7 linked regions of the Homo sapiens genome follow. The protein of the gene in region 1 purifies or fractionates together with the protein of each later gene. This does not show direct contact. Each region holds a gene or a part of one and is shown in the gene's direction. Other genes may lie near its edges. The genes, in order: ATAD3A, HIGD1A, HADHA, POLD3, AMBRA1, SLC25A33 and HADHB.

Evidence for each region.
Region 2: the proteins of ATAD3A (region 1) and HIGD1A purify together in Homo sapiens (tandem affinity purification; one large-scale study listed by IntAct). This does not show direct contact.
Region 3: the proteins of ATAD3A (region 1) and HADHA purify together in Homo sapiens (tandem affinity purification; one large-scale study listed by IntAct). This does not show direct contact.
Region 4: the proteins of ATAD3A (region 1) and POLD3 purify together in Homo sapiens (tandem affinity purification; one large-scale study listed by IntAct). This does not show direct contact.
Region 5: the proteins of ATAD3A (region 1) and AMBRA1 purify together in Homo sapiens (affinity purification with western blotting; 2 studies listed by BioGRID, with this or other methods). This does not show direct contact.
Region 6: the proteins of ATAD3A (region 1) and SLC25A33 purify together in Homo sapiens (tandem affinity purification; one large-scale study listed by IntAct). This does not show direct contact.
Region 7: the proteins of ATAD3A (region 1) and HADHB purify together in Homo sapiens (tandem affinity purification; one large-scale study listed by IntAct). This does not show direct contact.

Annotation. Positions count from the first base shown.
Region 1 is NC_000001.11:1,525,662-1,529,161, forward strand, and holds part of ATAD3A (ATPase family AAA domain-containing protein 3A), read left to right. Parts: intron 1-799; coding exon 800-870; intron 871-1,499; coding exon of another isoform or gene 1,500-1,614; exon of another isoform or gene 1,615-2,021; intron 2,022-2,033; coding exon 2,034-2,201; intron 2,202-3,500. UniProt on the Homo sapiens protein: Essential for mitochondrial network organization, mitochondrial metabolism and cell growth at organism and cellular level. May play an important role in mitochondrial protein synthesis. May also participate in mitochondrial DNA replication.
Region 2 is NC_000003.12:42,794,491-42,797,990, reverse strand, and holds part of HIGD1A (HIG1 domain family member 1A, mitochondrial), read left to right. Parts: intron 1-3,500. UniProt on the Homo sapiens protein: Proposed subunit of cytochrome c oxidase (COX, complex IV), which is the terminal component of the mitochondrial respiratory chain that catalyzes the reduction of oxygen to water. May play a role in the assembly of respiratory supercomplexes.
Region 3 is NC_000002.12:26,238,133-26,241,632, reverse strand, and holds part of HADHA (trifunctional enzyme subunit alpha, mitochondrial precursor), read left to right. Parts: intron 1-2,489; coding exon 2,490-2,531; intron 2,532-2,628; coding exon 2,629-2,699; intron 2,700-3,500. UniProt on the Homo sapiens protein: Mitochondrial trifunctional enzyme catalyzes the last three of the four reactions of the mitochondrial beta-oxidation pathway.
Region 4 is NC_000011.10:74,627,082-74,630,581, forward strand, and holds part of POLD3 (DNA polymerase delta subunit 3), read left to right. Parts: intron 1-2,133; coding exon of another isoform or gene 2,134-2,135; coding exon 2,136-2,242; intron 2,243-3,500. UniProt on the Homo sapiens protein: Accessory component of both the DNA polymerase delta complex and the DNA polymerase zeta complex.
Region 5 is NC_000011.10:46,545,524-46,549,023, reverse strand, and holds part of AMBRA1 (activating molecule in BECN1-regulated autophagy protein 1), read left to right. Parts: intron 1-523; 5' UTR 524-643; coding exon 644-778; intron 779-1,148; coding exon 1,149-1,207; intron 1,208-1,727; coding exon 1,728-1,911; intron 1,912-3,247; coding exon 3,248-3,420; intron 3,421-3,500. UniProt on the Homo sapiens protein: Substrate-recognition component of a DCX (DDB1-CUL4-X-box) E3 ubiquitin-protein ligase complex involved in cell cycle control and autophagy.
Region 6 is NC_000001.11:9,552,965-9,556,464, forward strand, and holds part of SLC25A33 (solute carrier family 25 member 33), read left to right. Parts: intron 1-661; coding exon 662-841; intron 842-3,500. UniProt on the Homo sapiens protein: Mitochondrial transporter that imports/exports pyrimidine nucleotides into and from mitochondria. Selectively transports uridine, thymidine, guanosine, cytosine and inosine (deoxy)nucleoside di- and triphosphates by an antiport mechanism.
Region 7 is NC_000002.12:26,282,939-26,286,438, forward strand, and holds part of HADHB (trifunctional enzyme subunit beta, mitochondrial isoform 1 precursor), read left to right. Parts: intron 1-65; coding exon 66-113; intron 114-1,178; coding exon 1,179-1,266; intron 1,267-1,944; coding exon 1,945-2,019; intron 2,020-2,468; coding exon 2,469-2,633; intron 2,634-3,500. UniProt on the Homo sapiens protein: Mitochondrial trifunctional enzyme catalyzes the last three of the four reactions of the mitochondrial beta-oxidation pathway.

The DNA of each region.
Region 1 (3,500 bases):
CCTTGGCCTCCCAAAGTGCTGGGATTACAGGCGTGAGCCACCACGCCCAGCCTTTTAATTATCATTCTAAGACAGGGTCTCTGTCGCCCAGGCTGGAGTGCAGGGGCGATCACAGCTCACTGTTGCCTCGACCTCTGGAGCTCAAGCAATCCTCCTGCCTCAGCCGCCTGAGTAGCTGGGACTGCAGGGGCACAGTGGAATACCTGTCTAATTTTTTTGTAATTTTAGTAGAGATGGAGTTTCCTCACGTTGCCCAGACTGGGCTCAAACTTCTGAGCTAAAGAGATTTGCCTCCCTTGACGTTCTGAAGTGCTGGGATTACAGATGTGAGCCCCCGTGCCCGGTCAGGCTTTCTTTTCTTTTTCTTTTTTTTTTTTTTAAGGCAGAATTTTACTCTGTTGCCCACGCTGGAGTGCAGCGGTGCAATTTCAGCTCACTACAACCTCTGCCTCCCAGGTTTCAGTGATTCTCGTGCCTCAGCCTCCCACGTAGCTGGGACTACAGGTGCGCCACCACGCCTGGCTAATTTTTGTATTTTTAGTAGAGACGGGGTCTCACCATGTTGGCCAGGATGGTCTCAAACTCCTTACCTCGTGTGATCTGCCCGCCTCAGCCTCCCAAAATCCAGGTTACATTCGTGAGCCACCGCCCCTGGCCCTGGTCAGGCTTTTGAGAGTAGATCCATGAAAGTGTCGCCATGTCCCTGCTCCCTGCAGGAGGGAGGCCTGTGGGACTTTCTGCTGTGGCTGTTTACAAGGCTTTGCTCCTGGTGCCTAAGGCTGGAACCTTCTCTCTGCAGGAGAAGATAAGCGAGGACCTCAGGGCCACACTGAACGCCTTCCTGTACCGCACGGGCCAGCACAGCAACAAGTGAGGGAGCCCCTCGGGTCCTGGGCCCCCGGGCAGGGCTGTGCAGCCGTCGCCCTTGGTTCCCACCGAGGGACCTGAGGGGCCCTGGCTCACAGTGCTGGGCAGCTGCCGTGGCCTCAACATGCCCACCTCGGATGTCCCCTGGGAACGGCCCAGCTCGGGACAGCACGGGGTGTCACTGAGGAACATGCGGGGGCCTCCCGGGCAGAGCTGGGGTCAGTCCTGTCCTCACGGCCCTGTGCGCCGCCGCCCCAGCTTGCAGGTCCCTCTGCCCCTAGGTTTCTGCGGTCCTGTGCCTGCAAGGGAGGTGGTCTCATCGTGTGAGGCTCTGCTGGGTCTCCCTTGGAGGGTGTGTGTGCCCTGGGGTGGGAGATGGAGACAAGTTTGCTCCCACGGGAAGTTGGACACCAGCAGGTCCTGTGTGTCGGGGCGGAACCTGGGACCTTGGTCCCCCGCCCGGATGCTGGCCAAGGGTGCACCCTCCAGGCTTGGGGCCCACCCGACTTTGTGTGGCCTCTGTGGGCTGCCGCCCAGAGGTCCCCCATAGGGTGACCGCCCCATGGCCAGGCTCCCTAGTCCCTCCCAAGTCCCCTAATTTTGAGTTTTCTTGGTCTCCTGGGCCCCTCCAGCCCCAGTCACGTGTCACACGGAGGATCAAGTCCTGCTGGTCGGCCGTGGCTGACTCCTCAGGCACGTTGGGCTCCCAGGTCAGCTGCTGCCGGTGGATGCTCCCTGGAGCCCTGACTCGGGTCCTTCCCAGAGAGGCAAGGCTGGGGCCCTGCTGAGCCTCCAGTGAACCCGGGCCCCTGAGGTCCTGCTCCTGGCACGTGTGGGCGACTTCTCGACATGGACTCCGGGTCCCGAATCCCTGCTCCCAGCACAGCAGGGGTCAGGCAGCAGGAGAGAGTGGTGTTCCCGGCACTGCCTATCAGGCTGGGCGAGGGTCAGCGGGAAAGCACTATATGGAGGGAGAACAGAGGCCCAGGAAGCCAGGCCGGGGGACAGCTGGGTGCAGTGGGGCAGGTGGCCGACCAGGGCTGTGCCCGTGTCCTCGTGTTTCCCGCCACTTTAGGTTCTCCCTGTGGGGGCTGAGGAGGCCCCGTTCCCCTTGGTGCAGCTCGGCCGGCAGCCCCAGCATCCTCATCCTCATCCCCGCCCCGCAGGTTCATGCTGGTCCTGGCCAGCAACCAACCAGAGCAGTTCGACTGGGCCATCAATGACCGCATCAATGAGATGGTCCACTTCGACCTGCCAGGGCAGGAGGAACGGGAGCGCCTGGTGAGAATGTATTTTGACAAGTATGTTCTTAAGCCGGCCACAGAAGGAAAGCAGTAAGTGTCCCGCCCCACCAGCCCCCGTCCAGGGGCCCTCGCTCAGGGTCCACCCCGACCCACAGTCCACCATCACTTACAAACCTTTAACATTCCTTTTTTTTTTTTTTTTTTGAGACAAAGTCTCATTCTTGTCGCCCAGGCTGGAGTGCAGTGACACGATCTCAGCTGACTGCAACCTCTGCCTCCCGGGTTCAAACAATCCTCTTGCCTCAGCCTCCTGAGTAGCTGAGATTACAGGCGCCCACCACCATGCCTGGCTAATTTTTTTTTAATTTTTAGTAGAAATGGGGTTTTACCATGTTGGCCAGGTTCGTCTCAAACTCCTGACCTCAAGTGATTCACTCTCCTCAGCCTCCCAAAGTGCAGGGATTACAGATGTGAGCCACCGCGCCCGGCGTCTTTTCCATTCCTCTTCACTACGAGGAGGGCTGTGAGGAAATCTTGTGCTCGGCCACCCCCAGGCCCTGGCTGTGAGGGGAGGTGATACGGAGTGTTGCTCTGAGACCCCCGTGTCGGGATTCGAAGGAGTCTCTCCTCATGAGACCCCCGTGTCGGGACTGGAGGGAGAGGCTCCTCATGGTCCACTGCTGGCTTCTGGCCTGGCCTCCCTCCAGCTGCCACACCCGGCCCTGGAGCCTCGTGGTGTGGGGCACGGCTCTTGCTGCTCACGTGCCTTGAGGCTGTCAGGCTCCCTGTTGCTGGCGGTGGGTGCAGCAGGCACGGTGGGCAGAGCCCTCCAGGTGATGAGGGGCCCTGGCACCACACACCGGCTGCCTCGGGAACACTCCAGATGAGCAGAGGCTGCTCCACTTCTTGGCGTCCCCCGGGCCCCGGTTTCTGAGTCCTTCTGTGCACCTGACCCAAATCCCTGCTGTCGCCAGTGATGACAAAAGAGAGCCTGGTTGCCGCTGCCGCCTGCTCCATGCCAGCCCAGCTTTCCGGGCCTCAGTTTCCCTATGCCCTCCCCTTCCCTGGGCTCCCCCACCCCCATGGCTGCTCGTAGCCCTGGCACCATGACTTGGCTTCTGTGGCCTCCAGGCAGACGCTTTTGCTAGAAGTCGGGGCTCCGCCACTGCCAGCATAAAGGCCACCTGCCCTGCGGGTGCTGAGTGAGCAGCTGTGGGCAGGGCTGGTGTGAGGAGTGGTTGGGGCCATCTCCAGGCCCTGCAGCCACTCCCTGCTCAGTCCGGGCCTGGCCTGCAGCAGGGAGGATGTGGAGCTGGGCTGTCAGAAGTAGAGAGCCCCTCCAAAGAGGATGTTTGGCGTGGGTGTCGGCCTCGCTGCCTGTCTTCCGGC
Region 2 (3,500 bases), on another chromosome or scaffold:
CCGGGCGGCTGGCCGGGCGGGGGGCTGACCCCCCCACCTCCCTCCCGGATGGCACGGCTGGCCGGGCGGGGGGCTGACCCCCCACCTCCCTCCCGGATGGGGCGGCTGGCCGGGCGGGGGGCTGACCCCCCCTCACCTCCCTCCCGGACGGGGTGGCTGCCGGGCGGAGATGCTCCTCACTTCCCAGATGGGGTGGCTGCTGGGCGGAGAGGCTCCTCACTTCTCAGACGGGGCAGCTGCCGGGCGGAGGGGCTCCTCACTTCTCAGACGGGGTGGTTGCCAGGCAGAGGGTCTCCTCACTTCTCAGACGGGGCGGCCGGGCAGAGACGCTCCTCACCTCCCAGACGGGGTCTCGGCCGGGCAGAGGCGCTCCTCACATCCCAGATGGGGCGGTGGGGCAGAGGCGCTCCCCACATCTCAGACGATGGGCGGCCGGGCAGAGACGCTCCTCACTTCCTAGATGTGATGGCGGCTGGGAAGAGGCGCTCCTCACTTCCTAGATGGGATGGCGGCCGGGCGGAGACGCTCCTCACTTCCCAGACTGGGCGGCCGGGCAGAGGGGCTCCTCACATCCCAGACGATGGGCGGCCAGGCAGAGACACTCCTCACTTCCCAGACGGGGTGGCGGCCGGGCAGAGGCTGCAATCTCGGCACTTTGGGAGGCCAAGGCAGGCGGCTGGGAGGTGGAGGTTGTAGTGAGCCGAGATCACGCCACTGCACTCCAGCCTGGGCACCACTGAGCACTGAGTGAACGAGACTCCGTCTGCAATCCCGGCACCTCGGGAGGCCGAGGTTGGCGGATCACTCGCGGTTAGGGGCTGGAGACCGGCCCGGCCAACACAGCGAAACCCCGTCTCCACCAAAACCAGTCAGGCGTGGCGGCGCGTGCCTGCAATCGCAGGCACTCGGCAGGCTGAGGCAGGAGAATCAGGCAGGGAGGTTGCAGTGAGCCGAGATGGCAGCAGTACAGTCCAGCTTCGGCTCCGCATGAGAGGGAGACCGTGGGGAGAGGGAGACGGAGACGGAGACGGAGACGGAGACGGAGAAGGAGGGAGAGGGAGAGGGAGACGGAGAGGGAGACGGAGAGGGAGAGGGAGAGGGAGAGGGACGGAAGTTATAAGATTCTAACCCTCCCTAAAATGCTCCTAAGATCAGTGCTTGAGATATTTTGCAGACCCTGCACTTGATAGACCAACTGGCACCACCCAGATCAATAAACTGGCTCGTCTGATCTTATGTCCCCTACCTAGGAACTGACTCAGCACAAGAGGACAGCTTCAACTTCCCATTTCATCTCCAACCCAACCAATCAGCACTCTGTTCTCTGGCCTTCCCCCACCCACCAAATTATCCTTAAAAACTGATCCCTGAATGCTCCAAGAGACTGATTTGACTAATAATAAAAATCCTGGTCTCCCACACAGCTGGCTTTGGGTGAATTGCTCTTTCTCTATTGCAATTCCCCTGTCTTGGTAAATCAGCTCTGTCTAGCCAGCGGGCAAGGTGAACCTGTTTGGCGGTTACATGATTTCTCTTTTTTTTTTAAAAAAAAAAACAACAACTAATTTTTGAACGATTAATTACTTTAGTGTTTATATTGTATTATTCAGATATATAGTGAGTATCTTGAACCTTGAGCTTATTGAACCTTATATATAATAAAGCTCATTACTTAGGAGTTTATTCAGTTAAGAAGTAATGGAGTACAAAAAGAAGGTTTAAGTCCAATCTAAATTTTCTTTTATTTAGCTAAGATTTTCTTCTATGTCAGATGACAGTTGAGTCTTCTCAATGAAGGTGAGGCTTATAGGGATGAATTCACTTTCTAAACTAAGCACACCACCCCCTCCGGAGTTGCATTTTTGTTGAGGACCTTAACTGCCACTGACTCCCCTTGAGTAGCAAGGTGTTGAATGAGAGGTACTTTTATCAAAGGGAGCATAATGCACATGAAAAACCCAGAAGTGAAAGTAAGATTTTATATGGGTGTTAGGATGGGCATAGACTTTTAAGTTTATTGTAATTGACACTAATTAGAGACTTGTATGCTTACACTATGCTTCAGGCCCTTATTTTATCTGTGAGTAAAGTTTATTGCAATTCAAAATAGTTCAGTGAAGAAAGTATACTTTGTTATTGTGGCTAAAATGAAATAGCATTTGTTAATGCCTCATTGTGATAAAAGGGCTATTCACGGAGATGACTGAAAAGGAGGAAAGGAGCCTTTGATCCCTGTGATAATGAAAATGAATCCTTTTTTTTTTTTTCCTATCCCCTTACTCATACACTATCAGGCTAGATCTTGCCTTTGGGATACCATTTAAAGGAATTATAAAAAGAGGGTAGAGTTTTAAAAGGAAGCCTAGGGGATATAAGGTATGTAAATGAAGGCAGATCTGAAGCTTAGAAGATATTAAGAAGACCCTGAGGGTAATTCAGTTTTGTGCTGCAGTGATGTTAAAAGGTGCTAATCATAGGGCCAGGTGTGGTAGCTCATGCCTGTAATCCCAACACTGGGAGGCAGGTGGATCACCTGAGGTCAGGAGTTCGAGACCAGCCTGGTCAAGATGGTGAAACCCCATCTCTACTAAAAATACAAAAAAAATTAGCCAGGCATGGTGGCAGGCACTTCTAATCCCAGGTATTTGGGAGGCTGAGGCAGGAGAATCACTTGAACCTGGGAGGCAGAGGTTGCAGTGAACCAAGACTACGCCATTGCACTCCAGCCTGGGCAACAAGAACGAAACTCCATCTCAAAAAAAAAAAAAAAAGCTAATCATAAGCTGGCACAGTGGCTCACACCTGTAATCCCAGCAGTTTGGGAGGCTGAGGTGGGTGGATCACGTGAGGTCAGGAGTGAAACCCTGTCTCTACTAAAGAATACAAAAAAATTAGGCACGGTGGTGTGTGCCAAATGGAGGTTGCAGTGAGCCGAGATCGTGCCACTGCACTCCACCCTGGGCAACAGAGCAAGACTCAGTCTCAAAAAAGAAAAAAAACTAATCATAGGTCATTAAAAAAATCTAAAAGGCTATGAAGGAGACATTTCTACCAATATTTAAAATAAAAGCTTTGTTCTTAAAATGAGTAAATAATGAGCTAGGTAGAAACTTTGGCTATTCAGAATAATCTTTTCCCCAGAGGCAACCACCATGGATAACAGATTACTGTAATAGACTGGAAACTAATCTGAAGTGAAAATTGAAGCAAGGAAGCACATTGGAATAAATAAATCAGCAGTTGAAAGCAATAAAGACTGCATTTAACTACACCGAAAAGTGCTAAGTAGGATTTCCAACATGATATTGAAGGTTCAATAGGAGTTGTCAGTTTGGTTTGAGTAACTTAAAATTGTCAAGTTAAATAGTTGATTAAGGATGAAGATAGCCAGAAAATTAGTAGCTACTATTTTAATTGATAAAAGTAACATCAATTTAAAATTTTTCACTATTTTTAATTAACATGGTGCTAAAAATGAATGGGTTGTACAGGGGAAACGG
Region 3 (3,500 bases), on another chromosome or scaffold:
GTCACCCAGCCTGGAGTGCAATGGTGCGCTCTTGGCTCACTGCAACCTCCGCCTCCCGGGTTCAAGTGATTCTCCTGTCTCAGCCTCCAGAGTAGCTGGGATTACAGGCTCCTGCCACCACGCCCAGCTAACTTTTTTTTTGTTTTTTTTTTTTTGTTGTTGTTGTTGTATTTTTAGTAGAGACGGGGTTTCGCCATGTCAGCCAGGCTGGTCTCTAACTCCCGACCTCAGGTGATCCAGCCACCTCAGCCTCCCAAAGTGCTGGGATTACAGGCGTGAGCCACCGCGCCCGGCCATAGATTGTGTATTTTTAAATTTGATTCTCACTTCCTTAATCTCGTCGCTTCTCCCAGTGTTGAATCTTGAGAAAAGCTGTTGATTATTACAACCAAAGTAATGTTTTCAAATTTGAAATTTATGTTAGCATAATCCAGCTCTCTTCGCTGACTGTAGTCTTATGAGGTTTTGTAGTTATTCTTGGGTTACATTACAAAGATGATTAAAAAGTGGGGCAAAGGTTTCTCTCTACTTTGCTGGCACAGTAGATGTAGGCTAAAGTTCACTCAGCTGCCATAGGGTAAGCTCTGCAGTTAGGTAGTGAGTAAGGCTAGACTCCAAAAGCAAAGCTACCTTGCAGTGTGACTTGATTTGGTTGACTCTGGTTTGGAATTATTTTCGAAGTATGTTCATGTATATACTGGTTTTCTATTTGTTTCTATTTGTCTTGATCTTGGAGAGGTTTTGTGTATGAGTGTGTGGGCAGCATAGGTAGGTTAGTGGACAGGAGTTAAAATGGTTTAAACTGTTGGCTAATGACCACTAACCTGTTATCTCAAATATTTGATCTTTAAAACTGCAACCCAGTGGGGCATAGTGGCACATGCCTGTAATCCTAGCTACTCCGGAAGATTACTTGAGCCCAGGAGTTCAAGACCAGCCTGGGCAACATAGGGAGACCTCGTCTCAAAGAAAAAAAATGTTTTTGAAATATTGCAACCCATGCTCACTCTATTTCCTTTTTTTGCTTAGGTGCTTATTTTCTAACATATTTGTGTTTCTTGGTTTTTCCCTCTCAACCTGCATTCCCAATCAGTTCATTCCCACTCTAATCCACTTTACCCTGTTTTGCTAGAATTACCTATCCCCTTCTTCCCTTCCCACTGGAATTTCTACTTTGCAGGAAAACTTTTTCTATGCCAGGCCTATTTTCACTTTTCATTTATCTTCACTGAGTAGGAACTGATTCTTCCCAGATATCATATCCCCTGCTGACCTGGAATGTAAGCTCCACCAAGACAGGGATTTTTGTCTTTTTTGTTCACCCTGAATGTCCTGCTGTACTCCAAGTGCCTAGAACAGTGAATGGCACATGGAGGTCACAATATATGTTTTTGTTGAATGAATAACAGATTATGTTGGAAAAGATTACAATGTGGTTGGTGAAACACCTGCTACAGATGCAGCAGTTAGAGGACAGAACATTAAATAATAAAATAAAAATGCAGGCAAGGAAAGGAAGGATCACTGTAGACAGAATCCGAAGATGAGGTTTTGTGGAAAAGAGTGGAGTCATGATGCAAATATAAAGAAGGAAGAGTGGTAAATACAGATGACACAGATTTCAAATGATGGAAAAGCAAAGCAGGAAACATACTATTAGTCAAGTAGAGGCACTGGGGATTGAGGAGATGGCTGGCTTCTCCCATCTTAAAACACTGAAGTTCACTTGTAAGAGACTTGTTCACAGTCACACAGCTAGTAAATAAACCTGATGGTTGAACACAAGTCCTTTGCCTTTGCACTAAGTCGGCTGGCTTGGATTGCTTAAAGAAGAAATGCAGGCAGAACCTGAAATCACCCCATTCTGCTTCTGGTGCTAACCACAGTTTTCTTTCTTTTTTTTTTTTTAATGTGTCACCTTGCCTTTCCAACCAGTATAAAGCTGCTATTTTTTGTGCCTTCTCTTCCCTTTCCATAAGGAACTGGGGGATAAAGAGAAAATACGGAGGCAGCAAGAGCCTTGGCAACCTACTGATGATCCTCCCCTATTCCACTCCACCTTCACTGGGTTCTCCAGTCAGTAGTTCCCATGTGCCTCTTACATTGCTATCTCTTTGGTTCTCTTTGCTTCCCTCTTCCCTTTTGTGATTACACTGGGCCCACCTGGATAATCCATGATAAACTTTCTTTATTAAGGCCAACTGATTAGCAACTTTAATCCCCCCTTTGCCGTGTAACCTAACATATTCACAGGTTCTGGGGATGTATATCCCTTTGTGGGGGCCAGTCTTCCTCTTTTAGTATCCAAATAATCATCTGACCTAACAACTGAAATGGAAAAAATATGGCAGTAGTCATATGGCCTAGAATACATTGTACAGATTTGGGGTTTTTGTTGTTGTTATTATTGTAAATTACAGCTTTGTTATATATAAAAGGTACTACAGAAATTGTTTCGCAAATTAATTTTGAAATGTCTTTTCTTACAGGTTATATATGCCGCAATTTTACAGGGTCTTCTGCTTTGCTGAGTAAGTTTAATTTCTTTTTAATGTGTATGCTTACATTGCTTTTTGGATTTATGTTGCAATAAATATGTTTACAAATAAATCTTTCTTTTCTTTTTAGCCAGAACCCATATTAACTATGGAGTCAAAGGGGATGTGGCAGTTGTTCGAATTAACTCTCCCAATTCAAAGGTATCTCATTTAATTTGCAGTTTTTTTCTGCTAACCGCATTATGAATCTAGTCCTGAATGGGAAAGATGTATCCCATATTTCCCCAAATCTACCAATCTGGCAGTAATCTTACATGAATTTACAGTTTTGACAGTTATGTTAAACTTTGACAGATTGCCAAGGGAGCCAGTTTTCTAAAGCAGAGGTTCTTGCGTAAGAATTCCTCTTGTTGACCTTAGGTGCCACCAGCCTCCTGGTTATAGTGTAGAATGAGGAGGTGACTTATTAGAGAAGAACCAGAGTACAAGCTTTGTTTATAAGACTCAAAATTTGCCTACCCATCTTAAATATGAGGTTGTTAATCCATTTTCTTCATTACTTGCCTGACATAAGTCACTATTCATAGTAAGTTGGCTGAGTGAAATGTGGATACTTGGCTCTTAAGCTTCCTGAGGGATCTGAATGACTCAATGCAATTCACATATTGGAAATCAAGTTCTGTTCGAATTGAAACTTCTTTTGTTTTTGGCAGCTTCAATAAAGTGTGTAACAGTAATCCATTCTTTTGCCAAGAAGAGCTTTATTGTGAGAGTCCATGCTTTTCCCCCATCTAAATTTGGTGTATTCTTACTTTAAAAATCTTGTAGCCAGGCTGGGCACTGTGGCTCACACCTATAATCCCAACACTGGATGGCCGAGGCAGGAGGATCACTTCAGCCCAGGAGTTTGAGACCACCCTGGGCAACATAGCAAGACCTTGTCTCTATAAAAAATAAAAAATAGTTGGGTATGGTGATGTTCACCTGTAGTGCTAGCTACTC
Region 4 (3,500 bases), on another chromosome or scaffold:
TAGCCTCAGGCAGCCCTTAGGAGATATTTCAAAAGAAGGCATTGTTATCATAAGAGATGACAGCTTCATGTGTGTTACTGCCCCTGAAGAAGACCTTCCAGTGGGACAAAATGTGGAGGTGGAAGACAATGATCATTGATGATCCTGACCCTGTGTAGGCCGAGGCTAATGTGTGTTTGGGTCTTAGCTTTCAACAAAAAAAGTTTAAAAAGTAAATAAAAAATTTTTAAAATAGAAAAAGGCCTATAGAATAGGGATATAAAGAAGAAAATATTTTTGTACAGCTGTACAATTTTTTGTGTTTTAAGCTGTGTTATTACAAAAGAGCCAAAAAGTTATAAAATTGAAAATACAGTTAAAGTAAGCTGTTTATTATTGAAGAAAGAAAAACATTTTAAAATAAATTTAGTGTTGCCTGAGTATCCAGTGTTGATAAAGTCTACAGTAGTGTACAGTAACATCCTAGGGCCTTCACATTTCACTCACCGCTCACTCACTGACTCAGCCAGAGCAACTTTCAGTACTGAAAGCCCCATTCGTGGTAAGTGCCCTATACATGTGTACCATTTTTAATCTTTTTTATACAGTATTTTTACTGTATCTTTTCTCTTTTTAGATGTTTAAATACACAAATACCGTTGTGTTACAGTTGCCTACAGTATTGAGTACAGTAACAATGATGTACAGGTTTGTAGCCTAGGAGCATAGACTATACCATCTAGGTTTGTGTGAGTATACTCTGTGATGTTCACACAGTGAAGTCACCTAACAATGCATTTCTCAAAATATGTCCCTGTCATTAAGTGATCCATGACCGCAGTTGGGAGAAGTTTCCTCTGTTTTCTGAAGGAGTTTATATATACGTGTATATTTTTCAAATGTTTAATAAAATTTACCAGTGAATCCAGGGCTGGATTTTATTTGTGGGAAAGGTTTTTATTGTGAATTTGATTTAACTAGAGCTGTTCAAATTCTCTAGTTCTTCTTGGATCAGTTTTGACTGAGTTGTGTTTTTAAAACTCAGTCAAAATTTGATCTAAATTGTTGAGTTTATTGGCATAAACCCGTTCATTATATAACTTTATTCTTCGAGTTTGTAGAACCTGTACTCGATACAGATTTCTTTACTGTTTCATTCCTGATTGATAATTTATATTTTTCTGTTTTCAAAATGGGTTTTATAAAAGGCTTATTAATAAAATTAATCTCCCAAAAATAACAACTTTGGCTTTGTTAATTTTCTCTTATTTTTTATCTCACTGATTTCTGCTCTTATCTTTATTGTTTCCTTTTACTTTGGGTTTAATTGTTCTTTTTCTAGTTCAAGGTAGAAAGGAAAGTTGGTATTTAAAGTTATATAGGACATAAGGTACTTGATGGCAAAGATTATGTCTTGTATATATTTGTTTCTCTAACATTCAGTAGGCCTTTGATAAATTACTTGTTGGTTGCATGAGGAGTGTGATGGAGTATCCATTCATCCAGAGGAGCTAAATAATGTCATGATGGAGTCTAGGATTTTTTTTATTATTATTATGTCATTAGAATCACCTTAAAAGGATATCTCTGCCTTTGCTCATATTGTTCTTTCTCTTTAAAATATGTTTCCCCTTTCTACATGATGAACTTCTACTTAGCTTTTAAGTTTTCCAAATATGAATTATATTCCATAACATTTTATTTGTCCAGTTAAATCTACCACATTGCCTTATAGCCAGTGGTGTTTGCCAGAGCTTCTTGAAAACAGTATTTTCTTCTGTATTGTTGCATTCTCAATGGCTAGCAAAGAGCCTTGTATGTATGTAGTAGCTGCTTATTTAATGCTTGTTGGATAATTGAAAGGCCAATCAGGGAAGTAAGAAGGAATTTGGAAAGATTCTTGATAACCTGGTTGTAGCTTCCAGCAGTCTCTAGAGAACTCTAGAACTTTTTTATTCAAGTCACCTCATGAAGTGACTTAGTTGTGGTCAGTTAGCAGAGTATCCTTAACAAGAGTCCTTCTTGGACTATTTGGCCGTCCTTTTCTACCCTCTGGAATTAAGACCACGAGTTATAAAGCAAAACCCATAAGAGCATGTGAATACTTACATTTTTGTTCTGTGTAACACGCTTAATTTATTTCTGGATGGCAACAGGGGGAAGCGAGTAGCATTATCTGATGATGAGACAAAGGAAACTGAAAACATGAGGAAAAAGAGGAGAAGAATCAAACTTCCTGAATCTGATAGCAGTGAAGATGAAGGTGGGCATTACCATTCATTTTGGGTTAGGGGGATCAATTTTACTTTCAATGTTCAAGGAGCTAAAAAAGTAATGGATTAAGGATCACAATGAGAGTAGTAATTCTAGCATTAAGAGACACCATAGCACCTCTTTCTGTTTGAAATCTGCATTAGCCTTTTGACTAGAACCATGATCTTTTGGAAATTTGTCAAAATAACACAGAAGGAAAGAGGATAAGAATTATTATTATACATATTATCTAAGACTTTTTCTTTTCTTTTCTTTTTTTTTTTTACTTTTAAGGGGAGGATATTCCTTTAGCTACCTTCATGTGAATCTTTTAAAAATTGTGACGTTCTAGGCAGCCAGGGTATTACTGGTGGTGGTCCACACAGGTAAAACTAGGGTTAACTGGAACAACCTACAGTGTCATTGTTAGAAGGGAATGACACTGTGGACCCTTCTAGTTTTAGGCTGTGGGCAATGTTGTAAGATAAGCAAACCTCATAAGGGCAAGAGTTTTACCGGGAACATTAATATGCTTTTAAAAAAATATCAAGTATTTTGAAGAGCCAAGATCTTGCCCCAAATTGTATAAAGTATATAGAAAAAGAAGGAGGCTAAAAAGAAAGTTAAATGGGTTGAACTGATATGCTGGACGACTCTACCTTGAAAAGCCCACTTTGAGACACAGTGGTGAAAAGTTTGAACTGCTCTAATCAATTGTCCATGAATTCATGGCATAATGGGTATAAAACATTTTAAGTAATGAGGGGAAATCTAGTCCAAAGGATTTCAGCATCACATAAAGATACAGAGACAAACACGAACAGATACTAAAAGGGAGAGTAAAGAAGAATAATGAATGCAAAAAAGGAACCTACTGAGCTATCAAAGGACAAACTTGTAAGATTCTGAAACTTGTAAGATTCTGCTTTTTCCAGAAACTACTCTAAGAGGAATTGAAAATGGTAAGAGAGGCTTCCGAAAAAAGGATATTAGCTCAACTATACAAGTGAGTGAAAAAAAAACAAATTATATATACAGTTGACAGTAATGCAAAAGAAATGAACAGACCCAAGAAATAGTAGCAGGAAGCTGAATCTGTGATAAAGGTGTAGCATCTTTGACACTTCTGTGGATTTAGATTCTACCATTCATGCTATGTGTTTAGAATTACAGCCTGTGATATCCTGTGAGAGGTACAATGTCCTTCCGTGGGTTTTAGTGGCTCTTTAGAATGGGTAGGAGTAAGACACGTGAGCATCCCAGAGAGG
Region 5 (3,500 bases), on another chromosome or scaffold:
AAAGGTACTCCTAAATAATCTTTTTTTTTTTGAGATGGAGTCTTGCTCTGTCGCCCAGGCACTGGAGTGCAATGGCACTATCTCAGCTCTCTGCAACTTCTGCGTCCTGGGTTCAAGCAATTCTCCTGCTTCAGTCTGATGAGTAGCTGGGATTACAGGTGCCTGCCACCACACCCGGCTAATTTTTGTATTTTAGTAGAGACGGGGTTTCACCATGTTGGCCAGGCTGTCTCAAACTCCTGACCTCAAGCAATCCAATCTCCTTGGCTTCCCAAAGTTCGGGGATTACAGGCGTGAGCCACTGTGCTTGGCCTGATCCTTTCTTTAGCTACAAGGTTGAGCTATGGAGAATATGAGAGTATGAAATATTTTTGGAAGAAAAATTCTGGGAGGAAGGGTCTTTTCTGAGAAAGTGTCATTAAATAGGAAAAGTATAATTTCCCTTTTGAGCTAGAATTGTATTTGCAATTAGAAGCTTCTCGTTGCAGAAGTCGTTCTTTGACATTATTCTTTGTTCCTTAAGATTTCCATGAGGACAACTTACAAGGACCTGTATGGCCTCATTTTAGCTGCTTCAGTGTGTTGGAGCTGTTACTTGCTCCTTCATTTCCTGGGCCTGGTGTGACAGTGGCTACTGAGCGCCATGAAGGTTGTCCCAGAAAAGAATGCTGTCCGGATACTCTGGGGGCGAGAACGGGGTGCTCGGGCCATGGGAGCTCAGCGGCTTCTGCAGGAGCTGGTAGAAGATAAAACCCGGTGGATGAAATGGGAGGGCAAGGTAAGGAAAATGGCTATATTTCACATAGGATTTGTGCTGGTGATGGTAGAATGAGACCTTAGAATGGGTTAACAGCAGAGAGTTGGGATATATTTATCTTGTGTGGGAGAGTTGACATATCTGACTTAGGGAGTTGTTTGTAAATTTGAAAGAACTAATGTGCTAGAAATATCTTTTTCCTTTAGAGCTAGACAGTTTTCCTGAAGGTAATTTAGGTTTATCTCTCTCAATTTGTAGCTTGATCATTGTCTCCAGTTTTTAAGCCTACACTGTGAATGCTAATCTAGAATGGTTAATGTGCTTTTGAGATACGGTGAACCATGGTCTACAAATCATGTATTTTAACTTTTTTTTTTTTTTTGTCTCCCAGAGAGTAGAACTGCCGGATAGTCCACGCTCTACCTTCTTATTGGCCTTCAGCCCAGACAGGTACTCAGTATTTATCTATAACTTAAGATTTGTGATAACAGTGCTTTCTGTATATTTGGCCTGGCTTGATCTTCCAAGTCAGTCCCTAAAGTCTCTCTGAAGTACTGTATGAACAGCACTTTGGCCCCGTGTCGGAAAGGGAAAGAAAGTAGATGAGCAGTGCTAACCTGAAAAATCATGAGAACAAGCAAAGGAAACTGAGAGGATCAAAACTTGGAAAGTTTCTCAATAACAATCATTTGCCTGTGTGATACAGCTCACCAGTGGTATGATGGTTTTTCCAGTGGGAAAAAATATTTTCCGAATGTGGCATGTGTCATTTGGGGACAGTGTGGACAAGCCAAAAGCTTTTAAAGATCAGAATATTTCTGTTTGTAGATATACTGCCTAACATACAAAGCTTAGTTTCTTTCATGTTGGGATTGGCAGGTAGCATCAATATTCTATGTCGTCCAAAGTTGATAAGATTGGTTACCCTTCCACATGCTTCTGAATTCAGTTCTACTCTTTGATTTTCTAGGACTCTCTTAGCCTCCACCCATGTGAACCATAATATCTATATTACGGAGGTGAAGACTGGCAAGTGTGTTCATTCCCTGATTGGACACCGCCGTACTCCATGGTGTGTCACTTTTCATCCCACCATCTCAGGCCTTATTGCTTCTGGCTGCCTAGATGGGGAGGTTAGGATTTGGGATTTACACGTGAGTATTTCCTTAAGATACCCTTTTCTTTTGGTGTTCTAATTTTTTTTTTTTGAGACGGAGTCTCGCTCTGTTGCCCAGTGGTGTGATCTTGGCTCGCTGCAACCTCCGTCTCCCAGGTTCAAGTGATACTTCTGCTTCAGCCTCCCAAGTAGCTGGGATTACAGGCATGTGCCATCATGCCTGGCTCATTTTTGTGTTTTTAGTAGAGACGGGGATTCACTATGTTGGCCAGGCTGATCTTGAACTCCTGACCTCAAGTGGTCTGCCTGCCTCGGCCTCCCAAAGTGCTGGGATTACAGGCATGAGCCACCATGCCCGGCTTCTTTTGGTATTCTAAATGCAGAGACTTGTTTACCATTGGTTTTTTAATTCTGGAAGAGCCTAGCCAGATTCTTAGGACTACATCTGAATATATTGTTGTAGACATTGCCCACTTAATTAATAGGAAGTCTAATTCCCTGTCTTCCATTCCTTTTTTTTTTTTTTGCAATAGCTTAAGCATGCCCTGAGATTGTCTTCCATTCTTGCTAAGATGAACATCTACTTTTGCTTCCTTCAGCCCGTTGTGACATAGTACAGGAGGCTCTAAGATATGTTCAGGTTGGATTTCTGTTGTCTTAGGGCATCTTTGCCTAAGTACAGATATTCCTGTACTCCGATCATGATCATCAAAGCAAGATCCTCTTTGTCCTAGTAACTGGCTAGCGGGTTGTCTTGCACCATGTTGTGCACCGAGCTTGAGTTTTTCTCAGGCTTTGCATGGAACTGTGGGCTGGGCGCGGTGGCTCACGCCTGTATTCCTAGCACTTCAGGAGACCAAGACAGGAGGATTGCTTGAGTTCAGGAGTTTGAGACCAGCCTGGGCAGGATATTATACCAAAAATATTATACACAAAATTATATAAAATTAGCTGAGCATGGTGCCATGCGCCTGTGGTCCCAGCTACTTGGGAGGCTGAGGTGCGAGGATTGCTTGAGCCTAGGAGGCAGAGGTTGCAGTGTGCTGAGATTGTGCCACTGCACTCCAGCCTGGGTGACAGAATGAAACCCCCTGTCAAAAAAAAAAAAAAAAAAAAGAAATAGGAACTGTGTATATATGCTTAATGCTTGTAGATTGTGACTAATTTGAAGAACTGAACTGATTGTATAGTATTTATCTGATAAATTAGTGGCACTACCAGATCGCTGATCTTCTACATCTTTTTACAGAGGATGTATTTAAAGTAGTCCCTAGACATAGTCATTTTACCTTAAATGGACCTTTCTTGAAATTGACTTCCCAGTGTGCTGGTAGCTTGTAACCTGAGAATATCTGGAATTGGTTCATTCACAGGGTGGCAGTGAAAGCTGGTTCACAGATAGCAACAATGCCATTGCCTCCCTGGCTTTCCACCCTACGGCTCAGCTCCTGCTGATTGCCACTGCCAATGAGATCCACTTCTGGGACTGGAGTCGACGGGAACCCTTTGCTGTGGTGAAGACAGCTAGTGAGATGGAACGGGTCCGGTGAGTGCGCTGCCCCATCTGCATTGTCTGGCACAGGACTGACGTGATAGAGAACATTCTACTGGCTGTCACCTTGGAAG
Region 6 (3,500 bases), 8.0 Mb from region 1:
TGGAGTGCAATGGCAAGATCTCCGCTCACTGCAACCTCTGCCTCAGCCTCCTGAGTAGCTGGGATTACAGGCATGCACCACCATGCCCGGCTAATTTTTGTATTTTTAGTAGAGATGGGGTTTTGCCTTGTTGGCCTGGCTGGTCTCGAACTCCTGACCTCAGGTGATCCACCTGCCTCGGCCTCCCAAAGTGCTGAGGTTCAACTAATTTTATTAACCTTTATTGTGTTCTAGTTTTGTTTTTTTTTTTTTTTTTTTTTTTTGGGTTTTTTTTTTGTTTGAGACGGAGTCTTGCTCTGTCACTCAGGCTGGAGTGCAGTGGCACAATCGGCTCACTGCAGCCTCTGCCTCCTGGGTTCACGCCATTCTCCTGCCTCAGCCTCCCGAGTAGCTGGGACTACAGGCGCCTGCCACCACGCCCAGCTAATTTTTTTCTTTTTTTGTATTTTTAGTAGAGACAGGGTTTCACTGTGTTAGCCAGGATGGTCTCGATCTGCTGACCTCGTGATCCACCCACCTCAGCCTCCCAAAGTGCTGGGATTACAGGCGTGAGCCACCGCGCCCGGCACGTTCTAGTTTTAAAGAGAGAAAAGCTAAGCTTAGCATTCCATTGTGTAGGGAATAGTATAGCTTCTCTGATCTGCTTTGGTTTCCCTTACAGGTGTGGAGGCACAGTTGGTGCTATTTTCACTTGTCCACTAGAAGTCATTAAGACACGGTTGCAGTCTTCAAGATTAGCTCTCCGGACAGTCTACTATCCTCAGGTTCATCTGGGGACCATTAGTGGAGCTGGAATGGTGAGACCAACATCCGTGACACCTGGACTCTTTCAGGTTCTGAAGTAAGTTCAGTCTTGTCTGCTCCTGCCACCTGCACACCCTGTACCGCCACTGTCAACAGAGAATGTTCATCAAGCTTATCAAATGTGATGTTCTGTTTGCATAGCCTTGGTCCTAACTTAAGAATTAGATTTCTTTACCAATACCTTTGAGCTCTGACCTTGCTCCCCTGGCAGCGGGGGGTCCCAGTGTACATGTGACCATCATCCAGGGCAGTTAAAGTAAACCTAGCAAAGCAAACCAAAAATCCACGTGTAAATTGTTGCATCACATCATTGCTCTTGCTCAAAGCTTTTGAGGGAAATGAAGATAAGAGGTGATAGAGTAAAATTTTAAAAATTGCACAACAGAAGAGTTGTGAATATTTTATTTTATTTTATTTATTTACTTTTTTTGAGACAGAAGAATCTCGCTCTGTCACCCAAGCTGGAGTGCAATGGTGCGATCTTGGCTCGCTGCAGGTGATCTGCCCACCTTGGCCTCCCAAAGTGCTGGTATTACAGGCGTGAGCCACCGCTCCCAGCCGTGAATATTTTTAAAAGAAACAAAATGTTTGTTTGTTTGTTTGTTTTTGAGCTGGAGTTTTGCTCTCGTTGCCCAAACTGGAGTGCAATGGCACAATCTCAGCTCACCGCAACCTCTGCCTCCTGGATTCAAGCGATTCTCCTGCCTCAGCCTCCTGAGTAGCTGGGATTACAGACATGCGCCACCATGCCCGGCTAATTTTGTATTTTTCATAGAGATGGAGTTTCTCCATGTTGGCCAGGCTGGTCCCAAACTCCCAACCTCAGGTGATCCGCCTGCCTCAGCCTCCCAAAGTGCTGGGATTACAGGCGTGAGCCACCACACCAGCTTTTTTTTTGCTTTTTATTGGGAAATATTTTTAAATGTGTAGAAAAGTTATGTTTAATAAAATGGGCTTTAAAATTTGTTTTATACCTGAGCTACCTGCCCATTTTATTATTTTTACTGTAGAAAAAATAATTCATTTGCTTATAAAGTAGCCAAATATTCTTAAGTCAAATTTGGCTTATCAGTCTATGCATAAGGTAAAATCAAATTCAGAAGAGAACTGATTGAATATCTGATTTTTAGCTCAGGACCTTGTACTTTGAGATGCTCTATAATTAATAGTTGAATTTAACTGAGCATGATATTCAAATCTTTGAAACTGATTCTTGGGCAAGAGTATGTTCAAGAAAGACATTCATCAAGAAAGCTATCAGTGTAGAGATTTATTTGGGAAATGTTAGAAAAAGAAGTAATAAAATGGAGATGCTCTGTTTTAAAAACAACGCATTTAGCACTTTTTTTTTTTTTTTTTTTTTTTTTGAGATGGAGTCTCACTCTGTCGCCCAGGCTGGAGTGCAGTGGTGCGATCTCCACTTACTGCAAGCTCCGCCTCCTGGGTTCACGCCATTCTCCTGCCTCAGCCTCCTGAGTAGCTGGGACTGCAGGTGCCCGCCATCACACCCAGCTAATTTTTTTGTATTTTTAGTAGAGACGGGGTTTCACCATGTTAGCCAGGATGGTCTCGATTTCCTGACCTCGTGATCCGCCCACCTTGACCTCCCAAAGTGTTGGGATTACAGGCGTGAGCCACCGCACCCAGCCACATTTAGCACTTTTAGGCACAATTTAGATAAGGCAGGATGAGTTGGAGAGTGCTTAGTTTATTTTTAGGTATGTTTTATTTGTAAAACCCAACTATGAGTCACTGGGGCATTCATGCCAAATGTGTGCAAAGGTACATCTGAGCTTACTGAGCGAAACTGAACAGCAAGACCAGATGCCAGGGACAAGTGAGAGCATCAGAAGCCCAGCGAGGGAACAGGGAGATTGGTGTCCAAGACTCCAGGAGAAATTGGGGTTTTTGTTTGTTTGTTTGTTTTCTTTTTTGAGACAGATTCTCACTCTGTCACCCAAGCTGGAGTGCAGTGGTACGATCTCTGCTCACTGAGACCTCTGCCTCCTCGGTTCAAGCGATTCTTCTGCCTCAGCTTCCCGAGTAGCTGGGATCACAGGCATGCACCACGATGCCTGGCTAATTTTTGTATTTTTGGTAGAGACAGAGTTTTACCATGTTGGCCAGGCTGGCCTTGAACTCCTGACCTCAGGAGATCTGCCTGCCTTGGCCTCCCGAAGTACTGGGATTATGGGCATGAGCCACTGTGTCTGGGTGAGAATCAGGTTTTTAAATTAAATGCTAAGAAAAGGAGTGGAGACACTGGGCAGGAAAGTTGGGGGTGGGTACAGGAGGGACAGAAGCACAGAGATGTGGAGGGACACTTTGCTCTCAGGACAGATCCGAGTCCATGGCCCCCATCAAGATGGGACTGTGAGAACACTCCTCCTGCTTTGCCTTTTCACATGCTTAGGCGGTGCCAGTGTCCCGGGTGACACCTTTCTTCTAAGGAACATGCAGTGCTTTGGACATAAGGAAACTGAAGACAGGTAATGTTACTTCAGTAACATTCAAAATGAATTTCCTCTTGCCAAATAATCATGACTAGTGAATTTGGATTTACTGTAACTGGGGAACTGTTACCCAAAAGTGTGGGTGTCAATAGGGCCAACCTGGAAGGTAAATGGGAATGTTTCTCCATTTTAGGTTTTACAGGATATGTGGGTTGAGTGTCCCTTATCTGAAATGCTTGGGAC
Region 7 (3,500 bases), on another chromosome or scaffold:
CAAACAAATCATCTCTGATTTCTTTATTTTATTACCAAAGCTCACCTCTCTATTTTTTTACCTAGGGATTTTATGTATGTGTCTCAGGATCCAAAAGATCAACTATTACTTGGGTAGGTAGCAGTTTGTATCCTTGGACTATAATCACAAGTATTTGATTGCCTATGTTTTATTATACTGGTTAATAAATGATTAACACTGGTTTATTATTTATTTGTTTATTACACTGGTTTGAGAGTATATTAAGCCCTGAGTTCATAATTGGTTTATGTGGTGGTTTTTTTAAAAAAAATAATAGTAATCTGGCCGGGCACGGTGGCTCACGCCTGTAATCCCAGCACTTTGGGAGGCCGAGGTGGGCAGACCACGAGGTCAGGAGATTGAGACCATCCTGGCTAACACGGTGAAGCCCTATCTCTACTAAAAATACAAAAAATTAGCCAGGCGTGGTGGCGGGCGCCTGTAGTCCCAGCTACTCGGGAGGTTTTGGCAAGAGAATGGCATGAACCCGAGAGGCAGAGCTTGCAGTGAGCCAAGATCACGCCACTGCACTCCAGCCTGGGCGACAGAGCGAGACTCCATCTCAAAAAAATAAATAAATAAATAAAATAGTAGTAATCCTTTCCATTGGTATATCATGTTACAGTTTTGGATTATTTTCCATTTTTTTCCTATAAGTTTTACATATATATATGGACACACACAACTTATATTCTTTTTCATTAAGATAGCATATGCATTTTTTCATATGGCTACACACCCTGCTACACAATCTTCCTAATATAGCCTTTTATAAAAGCCTCCCCATGTTTAGACTCTGTTCCGTTCCCTCACAAGGCTGTAGCCTCTAGCCTCCACTGTGACGTTCACATCAGTCAAGCCCTTTCCCTTGCCTTGCTCTTTGAACTCTGTTCTTCCAGTTCTTCATGTTATTAGCTTGTCCTTATCCCTCACTGTTTATTTATTATCAATTTCTCTGACTCTGCAACATAAGAGTAGAGGGCATGTCTGTACAGTTTCACTATTTTATCTTTAACATTTCATTAATCAGTACAGAAAAATCAAAGAATGAGTGAAAAGACATTAGAGTACCTATGTAAAACTCAGTTTGGGGAATATGAAGGAGCTCTTAGTTTAAAAATTAAAGTTTTAAGATATTACTTATTTTTTCTTTGCAGACCAACATATGCTACTCCAAAAGTTCTAGAAAAGGCAGGATTGACCATGAATGATATTGATGCTTTTGAATTTCATGAAGCTTTCTCGGTAAGTAATTTGAAAGACACATATGAAGGGACTATAGTCATAAAAAATGTCATCCATATTTGTGGGAGAGAGCAAGGCATGGTTTATGATGTGAGTAGAGCAGGAGTGGACCTGCATATTTTAAGTACTGATTCACACTGCTGGGAGGGGCCCGAGGGGAGGGAAGCAAGGGCCACACATACAGTGTTGGAGAACATACCAAATTGCTTCTTTAGGAAATTGCCATTGAAAACTGATACAAAGATTTGTTCAACTTTACTTTTTTTTTTTTTTTTGGAGACAGAGTCTTGCTCTGTTGCCCCAGCTGGAGTGTAGTGGCACGATCTCGGCTCACTGCAACCTCCGCCTTCCAGGTTCAAGCAATTTTCTTGTCTCAGCCTCCCGAGTAGCTGGGACAAGCAGGCGCCTGCCACCATGCCCGACTAATTTTTTTTATATTTTTAATAGAGACAGGGTTTCACCATATTGGTCAGGCTGGTCTTGAACTCCTGACCTCAGATGATCCACCCGCCTTGGCCTCCCAAAGTGCTGGGATTACAGATGTGAGCCACTGTGCCTGGCCGATTTGTTCAACTTTAAACCATACCTAAAGTTGTTAAACTTTCACAAACCATTCCTATAAGAAAGCGTAGAGGAACATGAATAACGAGGTTCTTATTCGATTATTTTCTCTTCCAGGGTCAGATTTTGGCAAATTTTAAAGCCATGGATTCTGATTGGTTTGCAGAAAACTACATGGGTAGAAAAACCAAGGTGAGTTTCTAATTTTAAAAAATGCGTGAATTTTCAAAGCACGTTAATAATTGGATCTTAGTTACCTGTTCTTAAGAATATGAAGGGAAAGCTTCTCTTTCTTTTGAAGAATTTTGTCTTTCATTAAAGATATTTATTTCTTAGTGTAAAAGTAGAAATTCTTGTATTTCATTAAATATATTTATTTCTTAGTTTAAAAATAGAAATTATTTAGCAAAAATAAAATTCTGTGTTTTTTGTTCCTTGCATTCTGACATTAGATGAAAAATAAATGGACTCCTGACTTTTAATATTGACCTAGACTTACTTTCTTTTGCAGTAAAATTATTTGTAATATGTCTGACGTTACGTATTTTCCTCTATCTCTCTTACTTCGTAGTACTAAGAGCCTAGCTTGATTCTGATCTTAAGTAAACTTATCTTTACATTTGTGTCTTTGGGGGAGCCAGGTTGGATTGCCTCCTTTGGAGAAGTTTAATAACTGGGGTGGATCTCTGTCCCTGGGACACCCATTTGGAGCCACTGGCTGCAGGTTGGTCATGGCTGCTGCCAACAGATTACGGAAAGAAGGAGGCCAGTATGGCTTAGTGGCTGCGTGTGCAGCTGGAGGGCAGGTACGTTACAGTGGTGTCATAGGACCCTCCAGAGAGTCATTTTCTTGGAATGACTAGAATGTATGATTTAGTTTGAAACCTTCTTAAAGCAATATTTTTGATGACCTGGGGGTGGGGAGTGGGGAGGGATAACAGCTGTAATTCTGATAAAACTTTTTGTTTTTTGGGTTTTTTTTTTTTTTTTTTGAGACAGTCTTGCTCTGTCACCCAGGTTGGAATGCAGTGGTAATATCTTAGCTCACTGCAACCTCCACTTCCCGGATTCAGGTGATTCTCGTGCCTCAGCCTCCCGAGCAGTTGAGATTACAGGTGTGCACCACCATGTCCAGTTAATTTTTGTATTTTTAGTAGAGACAGAGTTTCGCCATGTTGGCCAGGCTAGTCTCGAATTGCCGACTTCAAGTGATCCACCCTCCTTGGCCTCCCAAAGTGCTGTGATTACAGGCATGAGCCACCATGCCCTGCCATAATTCTGATAATTCTTTGGAAGGAAACAGCTATTTAAACCCAAGCTATTTTTCCCCAATATAATGTTTATTTTTTACTTATAAATATATGCTGATTATGAAAATTGTGGAATATATGAAAAGTATATAGAAAAAGTTAGAATCATCTATAATCTCCCCATCAGACATTAACATTATTAACATCTTGATATATTTTCTTCTTTAATAATTAACTTTTATTTATCTAGTCACCATAAGACTTTATAAAATCTCTCCAAGAGAGAAACTATCTTTCTAGAGAACTGAATTATACCTTAACTGGGGAGTTAATTTACTTCTGGATAACTTACTGCTGTTCAGCTGGGGAAATATATTGTTGACAGATTTTTTCCTTTCTACTTCACTTGCATTAGAGACCCAA